2 linked regions of the Homo sapiens genome follow. The protein of the gene in region 1 purifies or fractionates together with the protein of each later gene. This does not show direct contact. Each region holds a gene or a part of one and is shown on either strand. Other genes may lie near its edges.

Region 1 (3,585 bases):
GGGGTGCCGCGACTTGCCCCCTAACACTTCCCTTCCCCCAGTTCACCGTGTGAACCCGTAGTCCTTGTGCGAGGGATGAAAATCCCAGGCGACATGATCCAAGTGGGAGGCAGCAGCTTTTGGCTTTTACATCAAGCGACCCAGGGGTCGGCGTGGCCCAGAAAGTACAAACGGGTGAAAGGTGGTCCCCAGAGTAGGGCCCCAAATTCCTCTCCCCATTGGGCGGGGGCCAGGAGGAGAGGTGACATTGGTGTTTGAAACAGCTGCTACAGATGCCTCAGCATCCTCTCAAAGGAGACAGGTCACCCATCTGTCTAGGGGAGTTTGGCCGGAGTCCGATTGGGAGAAAAGAGGTGGAAAAAAACCCACAAACCCCACCCGCGCCCAGCAGGAGAGCCCCAAAAGGCGCGAGGGGCGCGGTTGGGCGGCGCCGGGGTTCAGAGGCTGCCCTCGTCCAGCATCCGGCCCAGGCCCTCGCAGATCCTGCGCAGGTGGGAGCGGTAGGGCTCGGCGGGGCCGTAGAGCGCAGCCAGGAAGTCGCAGTCGGCTAGGTGGCCGAACACGTGGTTGATGCGGCCGTGGGACTTGGCGGTCAGGTGGGGACCCACGGCCTGGTGCAGCAGGTCGCGGCACTCGAGCAGCCCGGCGGCCAGCACGCGCCGGTCGAAGGTGAAGTCCACCTGGTGGAAGCTGACGGCCGTCATGGCCAGGCAGCGCGCCCGGTGGCGGAAGCGCCGCAGCAGCGCCAGCTCCTCACCGCCCAGCTGGTCCCCACGCAGCAGCAGTCCCAGCTTCAGGGCCACCTTGACCAGGTTCTTGAGCATCTTCTGGGCCTCCTTGCGGCTGCGCGTGAACTCCCTGGTGGCGCGGTACAGCTCATCCAGCACCTCACTGCTGGTGTCATCCACCAGCACGGCCACCACTGCCTTGGACGCCATCTTACTCAGGAGCTTCTTCTGCGCCTGCAGAGCCAGGCTCTTGGTGCTGAAGGTGTCCATGGCCTGCGGGGGACACAGACCAGCCCTCAGTTTTGCACGTTGGGGCACTCCTCACACAGAAGAGGTGACAACACCACAGACCCCAGAGGGCCTAACGGAATTTGTTTCTTTAAAAAGTGTCATGCCGGACGCAGTGGCTCACGCCTGTAATCCCAGCAATTTGGGATGCCTAGGCAGGCGGATCGCCTGAGATCGAGGTTAGGAGTGCGAGACCAGCCTGGCAAACATGGTGAAACCCATGTTTCTCTCTACTAAAAATACAAAAATTAGCCAGGCTTGGTGATGGGTGCCCGCAATCCCCGCTACTTGGGAGGCTGAGGCAGGAGAATCCCTTGAGCCCGGGAGGCGGAGGTTGCAGTGAGCTAAGACCATGCCACCGCACTGCAGCCTATAATTCAAGCCTGTGGTTCATGCCTGTGGTCCCAGTGCTCTGGGAGGCTGAGGCAGGAGAATTGCGAGGCCAGGAGTTTGAGACCAGCCTGGGCAACATAACAAGACCCTATCTCTAAAAAAAAAAAATCAAAAATTTTATTTTGTATTTATTATTATGATTATTATTATAAACAAACAGAGAAGGCCCTTCTGAACCCCACTATCTGTAGGGTCTGATGCCAGCCCTCAAACCCATCATATCCTTGCTATGAGCTGAGAAGGGGCTCAAGGTGATTGTTACAGGGGGTTCCGTTCCATCCCCTAGGTCCAGCTCAACACTCCCCACCCTCACCCCACAGCTCCATGAGGTGGGGTTCCAAGTGAGCCCCAGACCCGGGGCTGTTCAGGGTGGAGGAGCCCCATTACTATGGCAGTGCCTCCAGTCCCACTGCCCCCGCAGGGTTGGTTTATTTATTATTTATTTATTTTATTATTATTATTATTACTATTTTTTGAGATGGAATCTCCCTCTGTCGCCCAGGCTGGAGTGTGGTGGCACGATCTCGGCTCACTGCAAGCTCCGCCTCCTGGGCTCACGCCATTCTCCTGCCTCAGCCTCCGGAGTAGCTGGGACTACAGGCGCCCGCCACCACACCTGGCCCCCGACAGGGTTTATAACAGGCATGTCCAAGGCCTTCAGCCCCGAGTGAGCCAGGGGGTGATGGGTTCACAGGGGGCCATTTGTGGGGTTTCTGGGAAGGCATGGCTCCGATGATTCCTCCAACAGGGAAACATTGACTTGGACAGCCCCCGTCCAGGCTGGGACTGGGGAGGTGGCCAAGGTGAGAGCCTGGCCAGCTCTCGAGGCATAAGGGCCAGGCCTCTCACTGCAGAACCATCCCCCTGTCCCTGTCTGCTCCTTTTCTCTGTCCACCCTGCCCTGTAGCCTGCCCAGTTTCCCCAGCCCTGGAGCTTCCCCCTCCACCCACCTCCTTCCTGCAGCTCCGGAATTCTTCCTAAATCTCAGAGTAGGGCATAGCCCTTACCTGCTGAGAACAAGCTGACAGCTCCTCAAAGCTCCCAGGACCAAGCTCCACACCTCACTTGGAGCCCTGACTCTTCCCTGTGGACCTCAATACCCTAAGGCCCCATCTCCTCCCTGGTGAACTCCTATACACCCCCCAAAGCCTGGCCCCCAAGCCCCTGCCTCTTCCCTGGTAAACTATACATCCCCATCACTTTGGCCCCCAAGTCTCTGCCTCCTCTGAGCCGCAGGTTCCCCAGGCATCCCCATTGCTCCTCTGCTCCCCAGCTCTGCACCCCAACTGGTCTGCCTCACCCCAGGCCACAGGGGAGGTCATGGGCCCAATTCCTTATCCACGGTGTCCCTGCAGACTCCAGAAACATCTGCTGAATGAAGAGGGGAGTGTGGAAGAACTGGCGGAGGAGGGAGGGCCTGAGACCCGCCCCCGGTCTCTCTCACTGCCCCAGACCCTGCTCAGCCTCCACTCCCACCCCAGCGCCAGGCTGCCAGCCTTGGAATGCCATGTGGGCACCCACCTACCCCAGGAGCCCCCACAAAGCCGGTCTTTGTGTGAGTTCAGACTCCGGGAGAAGTTCCAAACCCTCGGCCGCCCTCTGAGGTCAGGGCAGGCACGGGAATTGCTGGATGGGCCGCCCCTGCCCTCCGACCTCGGTCACCAGACCCTGGCTCTGCACAGGCCTAGGCCAGAAGAGGGGTGCTGTTGACTCAGTGCCACGTGGCAGACCCTGAGTCAGCGATGTGTGCCCACTTTGTCATCGCCACCATGTACTAGGCAGGTTGCCTGTTTTGCAGAAGAGACCACAAAGGCTCAGAGAGGCTGAGCCACTTCCCCAAGACCACACAGCAATACAGTAACCACTGGCTCTCAACGCCCTTGAACCCCAACTCCCTGTGCCTTCCCCACCTAACGCCCTCAACTGGCCGTGAGTCTTAGAGGGCAACCCTGATATTTAGGGCCTGCTCCCAGCTCTGGCCTCTGCAGCAAGCAACTTAACAATGTGCCTCAGTTTCCCCATCTGAAATATGGGGAAGATCGGAACGAACTTTGTCCTGGGGCAGAAGCTTGTGACCAAACCGCAATGCCCCCTAAGCTGTGAGCTTCCTCTGGACGAGAGGCTGCAACCACTGCCTGGAATTCCGCCCTTCCGTGCCCACCTCAGCTCTGTGAAC
Region 2 (3,809 bases), on another chromosome or scaffold:
GGGTTAGAGTCTCCTCCCCTCTCTCCTCCTCTCTGGAGGGCTTGCATGCAAAGAAAAGTATCTCGAAGAAGAGGGTGAGGGTTTGTGAGAGGAGGAGGAGATGCCTTGGGCTTGAATGCCCAGGAGTGCCTACACCTAAGAGGTACTGGGAGGTTCCTCCAGCCTGCTGTTAGGATTGAACCCTGAACTCAATCATGACTTGACTGGGGCTGGAGGTTTTCTGGAAACTTCTTGCCACTATTGCAACCCCAAGTTGCTCAGACAGATTCCCTCCATTGTTCCTTGGTGAGGGGTTGCAAGTGAGGGGTTCCTTTCCCTCCCCTGGGCTGTCTAACCACATCCTCTCAGTGTCTGCATTTTGCCCCTAGTAGCCTTGTGGGCGCATGCCCGTGCTCAAGACTGAAATGAGGGCAGGGAGGATGGTGCTCAGGGAGGGGACCCTATATTCTTGGACTACCAGCCACTTAGAGAGTCAGGGGATGCTGCCTCTACCTCCCAACTAGGCTTGCAGCCTGTAAGTCTTATGGTAGAGAGGCCAGGCTGGGAGGAAGAGGCGCTCAGTCACAGAGTCTACTCAACCTTTCTGTAACGGGAACAGCCTGTTTTTTGGGGTGCTACTTTAGCACCTTTGCTGAGGAACTCCCAGAGCTGCTTACCACCTCTGACTTTAGTTTTCCCCATGAAGGTGGTCCTCACTTCTCCACCAGGGTTTTCTGAGGAGGTATTAGGGGAAAGTAAAGAGTAGGATCCTGATCAGCCGGGCATGGTGGTGCATGCCTATAGTCCCAGCTGCTCAGGAGGCCGAGGCGAGAGGATCCCTTGAGCCCAGGAGTTCAAGGCTGCAGTGAGCTATGATCGCACCACTATACTCCAGTTTGGGTGACAGCAAAACACCATCTTTAAAAAAAAAAAAAAAGGCTGGGCACAGTAGCTCACACCTGTAATCCTAGCACTTTGGGAGGCTGAGGCAGGAGGATTGCTTGATCTCAGGAGTTCTAGACCAGCCTGGGAAACATGGCGAAACTACATCTCTACAAAAGCTACAAAAATAAGCCGGGCATGTTGGTGCACACCTGTAGTCCCAGCTACTTGGTAGGCTGAGGCGGGAGGATCACTTGAGCCCAGGAGGTAGAGGCTGCAGTGAGCTGAGATCTCACCACTGTACTCCAGCTTGGGTGACAGAGTGAGACCCTGTCTCTACAAAAATAATAACAGGATCCTCATTAAGAGATGGGGAAACATCTTGGAGAGGAGACATTTCTGTGACATGATCCCCATGTATGTTTTCTTGGGAACAGGGACACTTGGGATCTCCCCTCACCGTTGCTTCCCAGAGGTCCCTTGGCATCTGCTTGGTGAACATATCCCTTTGGTTGACTCACGCCTTCCCACACCCTCCCTCTTAAGGCTTCTACTGCTCTCTGATCCTAATGGGAGTAGGACCTTGAGGAGGAGCAGGGATACAGCCAGGAAAGCTCCCCAAAACTGCCTCCCAGCCTTGCATAGACAAGCAGGAGGTTGAGGCAAGGGGAAAGGTGTCAGGCTCAGAGATGAGGATCAGCTTCCTGCTTTGGGGAAGGTTTTTCAGCATTAGGGTAGATCCAGGGACAAGAGACGAATGGGCATTGCTTCTTTGTGCTAGACCCCTTGAAGACAGTATTTTCTAAGCTTCATCTTTGCTACCCCCAAGAGACTGGGAGAATCAGCTCAGTCTGCATCTTTGTGTTCCTGATGAGGAAATGCAGGGGTAGAGAAGTTAAATGGCTCACCCAAGGTCATAGTGCGTGTGAGAGTCCAGATTAGACTCAGCCCCCTCCATCAGAGGCAGAATTTTAGTTGGTAGGATAGCTATCTGGGATCAGGATGGAAACTTTCACAGTCAGTCCTCTTCCCATCCTAGACTGGGATGAAGAGCAGGTGGTAAGGAACAATTCTTGTCACTTTGGAGGAAGACTTAGGGAGGGATGTGAACACCCTGTGAGAAAAGGGGAGGGTAAACTCCCATCTGGGAGTCCCTCTATCTCAGTGTTGTTGGCTTTCAAGCAGTCCAGCCCCTGAGGGAAGACTCAGCGAAAGTCAGAATTCTGTTCCCCTGCCAAGCCCAGCCTTCTTTTGTCTCGATTATCAGAATTCAGTGACGCGCAGCGCCCCCATCAACAGTGACAGCCAGGGTCGGTGTGGCACGCGTTTCCTCACCACCTACGACCGGCGCTTTGTCATCAAGACTGTGTCCAGCGAGGACGTGGCGGAGATGCACAACATCTTAAAGAAATACCACCAGGTATGGTGAGTCCCAAGCCTGGGCTGCAGAGGATGGGTTGGAAGAGGGAGAAGAGAGCCCTGGGGGAGCTTCTTAGGGAGGGGTTGGTCCTCTCTGGTAATGGCAGCTGCTTCTGATCACCAAGCAGTGGGACTCTCCTGCAACCGTATTTCTGTGAGCTGAAATGCCTACTTTAAAAAAGAAAAAAGGAGCCATGAAGGCTCATCGCTGACTGACTCCCAGTTGGAAAGTGTTCACGCACTGGCATCCGCCCCGTTTCTTCTGAAAGAGGCCCCCTCAGCTCGGCAGGCTTGTTTCTTTTCCCGTCCCATCTCTCCACTCATCTGGAACCTGTCCATGAGGAAGGCAGGGAGCCCCGTGGCACCATCTGTGTGTCTGTCCTCAGCCTACTTGGGTCTTCATTTCTGGGGCACCTGAGAAGGGCCGAAGGGAGCTTCTGGTCTTTCAGGAGTTATGGCAGAAACCCTGGGGCATGGCATGGATAAGAGCTTTGGATATGGAGCTGTTCTCTTCTCCCAGATGGCTGGATCCCTGGCCTGCCTCTGCATCCTGTCTCTTCCCTGCGGCATTCCCATATCAGGCTGGCAGAAGAGATGCAAGGTGTGGATCAGGGATTTTCCTGTGGTAGAATCCTACTTTAAACAAAATCTTAGGTGAGATACTAATAATATGAACCCACAGGGGCTCTGAGCCACCTGCTCAGCTTGCCTCTCCCTCTGCCATGCCAACAGGAGGCTGGAGGTGGCTGTTGCCCATTTTAAGCCTGAGAAACCCCTATTACTTCATAGAACCCAGCTGGAGAACTACTGGTCTAGAGGTTAGAATCCCAGGGAGCCAGGGAGCATTTTAGTCTGGGGTGAGCCCCATCCATCCCTGGCACTGCCTGTTCCTTAGTCCTCTCTCTTCTTCCTTTCCATTCTAGTTTATAGTGGAGTGTCATGGCAACACGCTTTTGCCACAGTTCCTGGGCATGTACCGCCTGACCGTGGATGGTGTGGAAACCTACATGGTGGTTACCAGGAACGTGTTCAGCCATCGGCTCACTGTGCATCGCAAGTATGACCTCAAGGTAAAGGGCTCTGTGTTTGCCGGAGCTGTGCCTCCCCTCTATCTGAGCCCCGAAGGGGCCACTACTCCAACTTCCATGTAATTGGGAAGCTGGAGCCTATGTGTTGGCATGGACAGGGAACTCTGGAGTGGATATGCCTGATTCTTGTGGACCAAAGGCAGTTTGAAGTCCAGGTGACAGTAACAGGAGATTATTTAAGCCCTAAATGTGCCATATTTATGCAGCAGTTGATGTTCCTGTCTGTGGAATGTGCACAGTGAGGGAGGCCGTGCTGACGCATGCACTTTAGCATCCATCAGGCCCCCATGGACTGCCAGCACAAGTGCATCTCTAGACTCTGAGAAGGACACACTTGTGGCTGTGAACTAGGGTGCTCCGTGTTCTTGAACCTGGCTTCTGACTTCTGTCACCTTATGCCGCCATCCCTTCCCTCTGTGCTGCAACTGGGCTGGTTTCCTC

The links.
Region 2: the proteins of TNFAIP8L1 (region 1) and PIP4K2B purify together in Homo sapiens (affinity purification with mass spectrometry, with the first as the bait; one large-scale study listed by BioGRID). This does not show direct contact.

Annotation. Positions count from the first base shown.
Region 1 is NC_000019.10:4,649,283-4,652,867, reverse strand, and holds part of TNFAIP8L1 (tumor necrosis factor alpha-induced protein 8-like protein 1), read right to left. Parts: intron 1,002-3,585; 5' UTR 999-1,001; coding exon 438-998; 3' UTR 1-437. UniProt on the Homo sapiens protein: Acts as a negative regulator of mTOR activity.
Region 2 is NC_000017.11:38,778,924-38,782,732, reverse strand, and holds part of PIP4K2B (phosphatidylinositol 5-phosphate 4-kinase type-2 beta), read left to right. Parts: intron 1-2,128; coding exon 2,129-2,281; exon of another isoform or gene 2,282-2,283; coding exon of another isoform or gene 2,284-2,286; intron 2,287-2,800; coding exon of another isoform or gene 2,801-2,881; intron 2,882-3,203; coding exon 3,204-3,350; intron 3,351-3,809. UniProt on the Homo sapiens protein: Participates in the biosynthesis of phosphatidylinositol 4,5-bisphosphate. Preferentially utilizes GTP, rather than ATP, for PI(5)P phosphorylation and its activity reflects changes in direct proportion to the physiological GTP concentration.